3 linked regions of the Homo sapiens genome follow. The protein of the gene in region 3 purifies or fractionates together with the protein of the main gene of each other region. This does not show direct contact. Each region holds a gene or a part of one and is shown on either strand. Other genes may lie near its edges. The genes, in order: REC8, RAB18 and CFDP1.

What was found.
Region 1: the proteins of CFDP1 (region 3) and REC8 purify together in Homo sapiens (affinity purification with mass spectrometry; one large-scale study listed by BioGRID and IntAct). This does not show direct contact.
Region 2: the proteins of CFDP1 (region 3) and RAB18 purify together in Homo sapiens (co-immunoprecipitation; one large-scale study listed by IntAct). This does not show direct contact.

What each region holds. Positions count from the first base shown.
Region 1 is NC_000014.9:24,174,992-24,177,980, forward strand, and holds part of REC8 (meiotic recombination protein REC8 homolog), read left to right. Parts: intron 1-551; coding exon 552-633; intron 634-1,830; coding exon 1,831-1,910; intron 1,911-2,149; coding exon 2,150-2,231; intron 2,232-2,361; coding exon 2,362-2,392; intron 2,393-2,473; coding exon 2,474-2,550; intron 2,551-2,717; coding exon 2,718-2,767; coding exon of another isoform or gene 2,768-2,854; exon of another isoform or gene 2,855-2,886; coding exon of another isoform or gene 2,887-2,949; exon of another isoform or gene 2,950-2,989. UniProt on the Homo sapiens protein: Required during meiosis for separation of sister chromatids and homologous chromosomes.
Region 2 is NC_000010.11:27,521,213-27,524,864, reverse strand, and holds part of RAB18 (ras-related protein Rab-18), read right to left. Parts: intron 1-3,652. UniProt on the Homo sapiens protein: The small GTPases Rab are key regulators of intracellular membrane trafficking, from the formation of transport vesicles to their fusion with membranes.
Region 3 is NC_000016.10:75,431,343-75,435,094, forward strand, and holds the start of CFDP1 (craniofacial development protein 1), read right to left. Parts: upstream 2,162-3,752; 5' UTR 2,011-2,161; coding exon 1,947-2,010; intron 1-1,946. UniProt on the Homo sapiens protein: May play a role during embryogenesis.

The sequences.
Region 1 (2,989 bases), on a different chromosome or scaffold from region 3:
TGCTGCTTGCACAAATTTTTTTTTTTTTTTTTTGAGACAGAGTCTTGCTCTGTCACCCAGGCTGGAGTGCAGTGGCTCAATCTCAGCTCACTGCAATCTCTGCTTCCCAGGTTCAAGCAATTCTCCTGTCTCCGCCTCTCAAGTAGCTGGAATTACAGGCACTGCTACCAAGCCCGGCTAATTTTTGTATTTTTAGTAGAAATCAGGTTTCACGATGTTGGCCAGGCTGGTCTGGAACTCCTGACATCAAGTGATCCACCCACCTCAGCCTCCCAAAGTGCTGGGATTACAGACATGAGCCACCGAGCCCGGCCTTCTTGCACAAATTGATGAGGGCTAGATAACTGGGGTGCGGGTTGGGGAGGGAGGTGAGAACAGGAACTGAGGAAAGAAGACCAGAGGGCGGGTGAGTTTACTGCAAGCTGATGTCAATGCAACAAGAATTAGGCATAAAAGGAGATTACCGTGCATTGTTGAAGAAGGCTGTGAAAAGTGGGAAAGCAGGGGGCTGAAGCTGAACCCTATCTTTTGTTTCCAATCCCTCTCCAAAGATTCGACACCTCTTAGAGGCTGCAATCCCAGAGAGAGTTGAAGAGATCCCTCCTGAAGTTCCTACAGAGCCCAGGGAGCCAGGTCAGCAGAGAGAACCTTCTTTCTGGTGAGAGGCATAGGCAGGCCCAAGAGCTGTAGAAATGACCATTTTTGAGCTTAAGAGCCAGGCCTTGTGAGGGGCGCTTTTTTTTTTTTTCGAGGCAGAGTCTCACTCTGTTGCCCAGGCTACAGTGCAGTGGCACGATCTCGGCTCACTGCAAGCAATTGTCCCGCCTCAGCCTCCCTAGTAGCTGGGATTACAGATGTGCACTACCATGCCCGGCGAATTTTTGTATTTTTAGTAGAGATGGGGTTTCACCATGTTGGCCAGGCTGGTCTCAAACTCCTGACCTCAGGTGATCCACCCGCCTCGGCCTCCCAAAGTGCTAGGATTACAGGTGTGAGCCACCGTGCCTGGTGAGGGGCATTTTATGTGTATAACCTCATCAGTACCTCACAAGAGTCCTCTGAGGTCAGATTTCTTATCCTTTTTTTTTTTTGAGAGATGGGGTATCACTCTCTAGCCCAGGCTGGAGTACAGTGGTGCACTTTAGGCTCACTGCAACCTCCGCCTCCCGGATTCAAGCAATTCTCCTTCCTAGTAGCTGGGATTACAGGCATGCACCACCACGCCCAGCTAATTTTCGTATTTTTAGTAGAGATGGGTTTTTGCCATGTTGGCCAGGCTGGTCTCAAACTTCTGACCTCAGTTGATCCACCCACCTCAGCCTCCCAAAGTGCTGGGATTACAGGCGTGAGCCACCATACTCGGCTTTTTTTTTTTTTTTTTCTTTTTTTCCCAGGCTGGAGTGCAGTGGTATGATGATCATAGGTCACTGCAGCCTTGACCTCCAGGGCTCAAGCAATCCTCCCACCTCAGCCTCCAGAGTAGCTGGGACCACAAGGATAAGCCACCACACCTGGCTAGTTTTTAAATTTTTTGTAGAGACAGGGTCTCGCTATGTTGCCCAGGCTGGCCTCAAACTCCTGGGCTCAAGCGATCCAAAGTGTTGGGATTACAGGTGTGAGCCACTTCGCCCAGCCTCCCCACTTTACCGATGAGGAAAGTGAGGCTCACAGTGGTTAAGCAGTGTACCCAGGGTCAGGATGCCAGAGATTAGCCTGGGTCTGATTAGAATCCAGGTTACCTTGACTTCAGAGTCCATGCTTTTCCTTAACTGCATGGCTGTGGGAATTTGGAAAGAAGCAGAGAGGCTAGTGACTCTCTTGTCCCTCCAGAGAGGATTCCGGTCACTGTGCTGCCACCTGAGGCCATCACGATCCTGGAGGCAGAGCCCATACGGATGCTGGAGATTGAGGTGAGTTCCCCTGCACACAGGGCCTGAGGTCCAGCCCCCTTGCATGTACTTCTCTCTGTCCCCAGAGTCCTGCCTTTTCTGTCTCCATTTCCCTATTCTCTGTCCCTGGCACTTGAGCACCCAGTGGCTTCCTTGAACCTGGCCCTGTGGCATGCCTCTGGGATCCACTCTCCTGGATCCACTTGCCTTTTTCAGAAATATTATTGAATCCCCTCCCCTTGCTCTTCCTCTCTGGACAGGGTGAACGGGAGCTCCCAGAGGTCAGCCGCCGAGAACTGGACCTGCTGATCGCAGAGGAAGAAGAAGCTATCTTGTTAGAAAGTAGGTGTCTCCGGCAGCGTAGGGCCCGCCTGGAGCTGGATAGTCAGACCCCTGGCGTGGGCATTCTGGGACTGGGCAATGCTCCCATTTCTCTTTTTCTGTCCTCTGAACTCTGATTCTCTCTCCACAGTCCCGCGGCTCCCACCTCCAGCTCCTGCAGAGTAAGGGCAAGAACTCCTAGACCAGGTAGGGTGTCAGTGCTGGGAAGGGTCTCCTCATTTCTCTTGCCCATTTCCCCTCAGGGTGGAAGGAATAGGAGAGGCACTGGGTCCTGAGGAGCTGAGGCTGACAGGCTGGGAACCTGGGGCCCTACTCATGGGTGAGTGCCCACCATGCCCCAGGGGCTTTTCTGGGAGTACCTGGATACTGCTGCAGACAAGGGCTTTATATCCCAACTTGCTAAAGGGAGGACCCTGCAGTTTCTTGCCCTGGCATCTGCAAGGGGTAAGGGGCTTATGGGACAGAGCCCCTTGGGTGTTGTTGCAGAGGTGACCCCCCCGGAGGAGCTGCGTCTGCCAGCCCCACCCAGCCCAGAGGTGAGTAGCCTCCCTTCTAATCCTCCTCCTCCTCCTCTTTGCCCTCCCCCACAAGGACTGCCTCCCCAAGCCCAGGGCCACTGCTAGCTTACAGGGGTCCTTAATGCAGATGATAAAAGATGCCCCTTTCTACGCCCCATCGTATCTGGCCTACGCTTCCCAGATGGGTACCCTTATGCAAGGTATGAGCTGCTCAAGTGCATGGAGACCCCGCACAAGCCC
Region 2 (3,652 bases), on a different chromosome or scaffold from region 3:
CCTCTGGTGAATCTCACATGCAGCAATTGAGCTCTTCAGATCTCACATGCTAAAACTGCTTCTTCATCATGCTTCTCTTTTGTTAAGTGGCTGATAATTTATCTTAATTGGTAGCAGCAGTGGGAGTCTTTTTGAGAGATTTGATTTTGCCAGTTTCTTACCCAATTTGATTAAACTGTGTCTTCAATCTCTTCATGTGGATAACATGGAGCTCACAACAGAAACAGAAGAACTGTCATCTCAGCTTTTCCTTGTTCATTTGTGTTTGCATTTTTAATATGATCTTTAATTCAGTTTCTTTGCAAGAATCTTTTTTTAGGCACACTGGTAAATTTTCATGTTGCACTTACTGCTTATTTCAAAGGCTCCATTAACTATATTATCTAGTTTTAACTAAAATAACCTTCATGAAAAAGGCCAAAGAAAATATGAACTCAACAGTAGATATATGTGAATGGGAGACCAGAAGATATTAATGGAAGCAGAAGCACACATCTTGTTGAAGAGGAGAAAAATCAATCAATAGAAACTGACTCAGAACTGACACAGATGTTACAACTGTACACCACATGTTCAAAAAGTAGACATGAGTGACATAAAAAAGGATCAAACAGAACTTTCTAAAGATGAAAATGGGCTGGGCACAGTGGCTCACGCCTGTAATTCCAACACTTTGAGAGGCTAAGGTGGGAGGATCGCTTGAGGCCAGGAGTTTAAGACCAGCCCCAGCAAAACAGCGAGACTTCGTCTTGACAAAAATAAATTTTTATTTTTATTTTTTTTTTGAGACGGAGTCTTGCTCTGTTGGCCAGGCTGGAGTGCAGTGGCAGTGATCTTGGCTCACTGCAAGCTCTGCTTCCCAGGTTCATGCCATTCTGCTGCCTCAGCCTCCCAAGCTGCTGGGACTACAGGCGCCTGCCACCACGCCCGGCTAATTTTTTGTATTTTTAGTAAAGACGAGGTTTCACCGTGTTAGCCAGTATGGTCTCAATCTCCTGACCTCGTGATCCGCCCGCCTCGGCCTCCCAAAGTGCTGCGATTATAGGCGTGAGCCACCGCACCCAGCCAAAAATAAACTTTTAAAATTAGCCAGGCATGGTGGCTTGCGCCTGTAGTCCCAGCTTCTCAGGAGGCTGAGGTACAAGGATGGATCGAGCCTGAAAGGTCGAGGCTGAAATGTGCCGTGGTTGTGCTACTGCAGCCCAGCCTGGATAACAGAGCAAGACCCTGTCTCAAAAAAAAAAAAAAAAAAAGGTAAAAATGGCAATGTCTGAGATGAAAAATACACTGGATGGGATTAACAGCAAATTAGGCGCTGCAGAAGAAAACATCAGTGAATGTGATGACACAGCAACAGAAACTACCCAAAAGGAAGCAGAAAGAAAAGGTTCAAAGAAAATGAGAGACCATCAATCATCTGTGGGACAACTTCAAGCAGCCTATTATGCAAACAATGGAGTTGAGGAAAAAGAAGAGAGAAGGGGGGAAAATATATCTGAGAAATAATGGCTGAAAAATTTCAAATTTGATGAAAAATATAAATCCACAGATCAAAAAAGCTCAATAAGCCCCTAGCAAAAAAAAAAAAAAAAAAAAAAAGAAGAAGAAAAACTCGGAGACATCATAATGAAATTGTTCTAAGTATTTTAAATTAAATATTTTAAACAAAAAGAAAAACAACATCAAAATTTGTATGATGCCACTTAAGCAATACTTAATAGGAACATTTATAGCACTAAACACCCATATTAGAAAAGACAAGTGATCTAAAATCAATGACCTAGGCTTCTAAACTAAGACAATAGAAAAAGCAGCAAATTAAATCCGAAGAAGTAGAAGAAAGAAAATAAAGTTCAAACCAGAAATTAAAAACAGAAAAACAACAACAAAAATCAATGAATCCAAAAGTTGCTTCTAAAAGAAAACCAATAAAACTGATAAACTTCTAGTCAAATTGATCAGGAAAAAGAAGACAAAAAAAATCATTACAAAGGATGAAAAAAATCACACCATTTATAGATTGTACAGAAGTTAAAGGAATGACAGAATGTTATGAACAAGTTTATGCCAATAAATTTGACAATTCAGATAAAAATGGACAATTTCCTTGAAAGATTAAAAGCTACCAGAATTTACTGAAATAGATCACAAAGAAAATATATATAGAATATAGATAAAAAAGGAAATGTGAAGAGAGTCAAAGCATATTATTATGAAAAATCCCTAAACAGATAAGAAGGCAGTAATGGTAAGAATTCAGGAACAAAAACTCTTTAAGGAAATAAATAGCAAAATGGCAGAAGTCCTTCCTTATTGGTATATTAAATGCAAATAGAATAAACTCTCCTATCAAAAGATTGGCAGAATACTTTTTAAAAATTCAACTACATGCTTTCTATCAGAGATTCACTTTTGGTCTAGAAACAAATATAGGTTGAGAGTGAAAGGACAGGAAAAGATATTCCATACAAATAGTAACCAAAAGATAGCAAAGGTAATTATTCTAAAATCAGACAAAATAGACTTTAAGTCAAAAACTGTTAGGAGACTAAAACAAAATATTTTGATAAAAAGGCCAATTCTCAAGAAGATACAACAATTATAAACATATACACCACAGAACAGAAGTCCAATATATACAAAGCAAACACTTGATAGAATTAAATGGAAAAATAGTGTTACAACCATCAGAGATTCTATTTATTTATTTATTTATTTTCCTAAACACAAGCCCTCCACTGAAAATACTGATTATTTTTATTGCCTGACTGAATTCCAAAACGTCTTTTTTTTCCCCACAAATTACATTTTATTTAGATTTTTACAATTACAGTTTCATTACAAAGGATACAATATCAGGACCAACCAAAAAGAGAAACACATAAGGATGAGGTCTGGGAGGGTCCCAAACACGGAGCTTCCATGCGTCTCCCCTTCCTCTCCCTGCAGAACCAGAGCACATCACCCTCTTGTTTTTTTTTTAAATCCTCCCATATACTTTATCCTATTTTTTTTTTATTTCAATAGGTTTTTAGGAAGAGGTGGTATGTGGTTACATGGATAAGTTCTTTAGGGTAATTTCCGAGATTTTGGTGCACCCATCAACCGGGCAGTGTGCACTGTACCCAATGTGTAGTTTTTTAAATCCCTCATCCCTCTCCCACCCTTCCCCGAGTCCCCAAGTTCCACTGTATCATTCTTATGCCTTTGTGTCTTCATAGCTTAGCTATCACTTATAAATGAGAACATACAATGTTTGGTTTTCCATTCCTGAGTTACTTCACTTAGAATAATGATCTCCAGTTCCAGCCAGTTTGCTGCAAATGTCATTATTTTGTTCCTTTTTATGGCTGAGTGGTATTCCATGGTATGCATATGCCACATTTTATCTACTCATTGATTGATGGGCATTTGGGCTGGTTCCATATTTTTGCAATTGTGAATTGTGCTGCTATAAACATGCATGTGAAAGTGTCTTTTTCACAGGATAAACAGTCGGAGATTTTAATACACCACTTCCAATTATGAATAGTGTACTGAGATATATTATCAACAGAAAACAAAGGGTTTGAAGGCCAATTAGAGCCAACAGAATACTCCGTATAACAACAAATTTTTTTCAAGTATACATGAAACATTCTCCAGGATAGGC
Region 3 (3,752 bases):
ACTCAGGAGGCTGAGGCAAGAGAATGGCGTGAACCCGGGAGGCAGAGCTTGCAGTGAGACGAGATCCCGCTACTGCACTCCAGCCTGGGAGACAGAGCAAAACTCTTGTCTCAAAAAAAAAAAAAAAAAAAAAAAGAAAAGAAAAGAAAATCGATCGGGTGTGCTGGCGGGCGCCTGTAATCCCACCTACTTAGGAGGCTGAGGCAGAACTGCTTGAACCGGGAAGGCAGAGGCCGCATTAAGCAGAGACTGTGCCACTGCACTCCAGCCTGAGCCACAGAGCGAGACACTGTCTCGAAAGAAAAAAAAACACTGAATACTGATCTAACTAAAACTGGACACAGGTTCAACGGCAGACTACGGAGTTGGGGAGGCCCCGAAGGTGGAAGTGTTTGTGTGTGTGTTTGGGATGAGGGGAAGGAGGTCAGGGGCTACTAAAAATGATACCTACTATACATGGGTTAAATCAATAGACAACAGAAATATAATACCAAATTCAAAAGGTGGAAAGAAGTTTCTCCTGAGGAATATTAAATAAAATAGGGATGAGGGTGATGGGACTGGCTAACTTTTTTTTTTTTTTTTTTGAGACGGAGTCTCGCTCTGTCACCCAGGCTGGAGTGCAGTGGTGTGATCTCGGCTCACTGCAACCTCCACCTCCCGAGTTCAAGCGATTCTCCTGCTCCAGCCTCCTGAGGAGCTGGGACTACAGGCGCGTGCCACCATGCCCAGCTAATTTTTGTGTTTTTAGTACAGACGGGGTTTTACCATGTTGTCCAGGATGGTCTCGATCTCCAGACCTTGTGATCCACCCACCTCAGCCTCCCAAAGTGTTGGGATTACAAGCATGAGCCACCGCGCCAGGAATGGAATGGCTAGTTTTCAACGTGCCTTTTAGAAATACTTCACTAGCCGGGGCGCGGTGGCTCATGCCTGTAATCCCAGCACTTTGGGTGGCTGAGGTGGGAGGATCACTTGAGCCCACGAGTTCGAGACCAGCCTGGGCAACATAGCAAGATGCCATTTCTAAAAAAAAAAAAAAAAAAAAAAATTTAAAAAATTAGCGGGCGTGGCAGCCTGCACCTGCAGTCCCAGCTACTCCAGAGGCTGAGACGGGAGGATCGCTTGAGCCCAGGAGTCTGAGGTTGCAGTGAGCCAAGATCGCATCACTGCACTCCAGCCTAGACAACAGCAAGACCCTGTCTTTAAATAAAACAGAACAGAACAAAGTAAAACAAAGAGAATAGGGACGACTCCTGGGTTGTGTTTTGTTAGTCTGTTTGTTTCTTGTTTGTCTAGTCTTTCAACTGAAGATGTGAATGGGTGAAGATACTTTCAACGAGACGGTTTGTCTGGGGAAGACCAAGAAGGGGGAACAGAAAGATTTCTTCAGTAAGATTCATTCTCACCCCGTTCGGGTTGAGATCCCTAAGGAAAGAAAGTTCTGAGAGGAGAGGATGGGTGGACGTCACAATGAGGCAAAAAGCATCAAAGGGGGAACTTTCTATCAGAACTTTCTAACAACCAGGCGGAGAGCGGACAGCTCTATCTTGGACGGGGTGGTGGCCAGCAGCTCTCTCGGGCCAGGGCTGAAAAAAACCTCCAAGGCTCGGACTGCCGCCCCGACTTCTGAAGCAGCGGTGTCGTTCGGGGCTGACCGACGAGCGTCCCTAGCGACAAGGGGCCGTGTCCATGTGCCGGTTCCCGCGCTGCAAGAGGGGGCGGCGGCCGGAGCTGCCCAACGGGAGGGGAGCACAGAACCGCCACGCGCACACGCCTCGGGCCGGAGCGGCCGAGGATGAGGGGCCTGAGGGAGCGGACGCTCGAGAACAGGAGCCCCCCTGGACCACCTGGGCCACAGGGCAGACGCCCGCGGGGGCAGAGCGCGCCTCACGTGAGGCGTGGGGCGGGGCAATTCGCTTCTCGCCTCAGGCGGAATCGCTCACCCGACGGCACGTAGTCCTCGTCCTCCTCCGACGTAGAGAAGTCTTCGGAGTCGAATTCCTCCATGTTGCTGCCGCTCGACGCTGGTCAAACTCACAAGACCGCAGCAGCCGCCTCCAACGGCAAAGCTCTAGGGAGAGACCATAGAGCCCCGGCGGCGGCGACGGCAGCTAGGGCGGCCCCCGACAGCGCTTTGCACATGCGCAGAGAGTACTACGTGGTTGCCCTACGACACTTCCGGCCGATGCCTCCGGGCTGGCGTCCCTGAAGCCCTCGCTGGGAGCCCGAACCCGCCCGGACGCGGTGCATGCTGGAACTTGTAGTCTTCGGCGCTGCCTCGCCGCCTTAATATAATAAACCTGCTTAAATAAAATTACATATCTATGGAAATACAGGTGACCTTCATTAATCATTAATTCGTAATGCCAAATTCACTTACTTGCTAAAATGTATTTGTAACCCTAAAATCAATCATCACGGTACTGTCTGGGGTTCTTCCCGGGCATGCGCAGAGGGTGAAAATTTGGAGTTGGCGGAGGTAAGGTTCCCAGCTGAAGTTTGAACTGGGAGAAGCGCCGCCTTCTAGTCGCAGCTCCTGTGCTGTAAACAAAGAGTCCTTTCCGCAGTCTGTTTACTGACACTTTTTTTTCTGCTTTTTGTGGGTGGTTTTGCTTTCTAAAATGGCCCCCAAGCGTAGTGCTTAAGCTCTGCCCAGTGTTCCTAAGCGAAAGAAGACCGTGATGTGCCTTACGGAGAAAGTCCGCGTGTTGGATAAGCTCCAATCAGGCATGAGTTACAGTGCTGTTGGCCATGAGCTCAATGTTAACGAGTCGACAATCCGGTACATCAAGAAAAAGGAAAAGGAAATTCACCGATCTGTCCGTGAGGCCGCTCCGGATAGTGCTGAAGTGACCTCCATCGTGCGTGATGAAGCTATGACAAAGATGGAAAAGATGGAAAAGCGGCTAAATTTGTGGATTCATGAGATGTCAATCGATTAAAAAAAACATAGTGGACAGCATTGTGGTGAGGCTGAAAGCCAAAGATATCTGTGGTCACGTTACCCAGAGTCAAAGAAATGCTAAGCCCTTCTCGGCGAGTGCTGGCCGGCTCGCGCGTTTCAAAAGGCGATACGGGGTGAAAAATGTTAAACTTGCAGGTGAGGCGAGCTCTGCAGATCAGGAGGCTGCGGAAGAATTTTAAAAATACTTGCTAAGTGTTATACAGGAAAAGGGTTATGTGAAAGAGCAGGTTTTCAATGCGGATGAGACTGGCTTATTTTACAAGGATGTTGGCAAACGAACCTATATAATGCAAACGGCCTCCAAAGCCCCTGGCTTTAAATCATGCCAGGATCATGCACCCTTGTTATTGTGCGCCAATGCCAAGAGCGACTAAAGTGCAAACTCCTAATGGTGTAAAGAACCCAAAATCCACAAGCACTTAACGGGAAATACGTGAACCATCTGCCAGTCTATTGGAGGTGGAACAAAAAAGTGTGGATGATGTCTGATTGGTTCCACAACTGCTTCATCCCAGAAGCTGAACACTGTCTCCAGGGCAGAAACCTTGCCTTCAAGGGTTTTTTGTTTTGTTTTGTTTTGTTTTTTGTTTGTTTGGGTTTGTTTTGTTTTGGTTTGGTTTTGAAACGGAGTCTCGCTCTGTCGCCCAGGCTGGAGTGCAGTGGCGCAATCTCGGCTCACTGCAAGCTCCGCCTCCCGGGTTCACGTCATTCTCCTGCCTCAGCCTCCCGAGTAGCTGGGACTACAGGCGTCCACTACCACGCCTGGATAATTTTTTGTATTTTC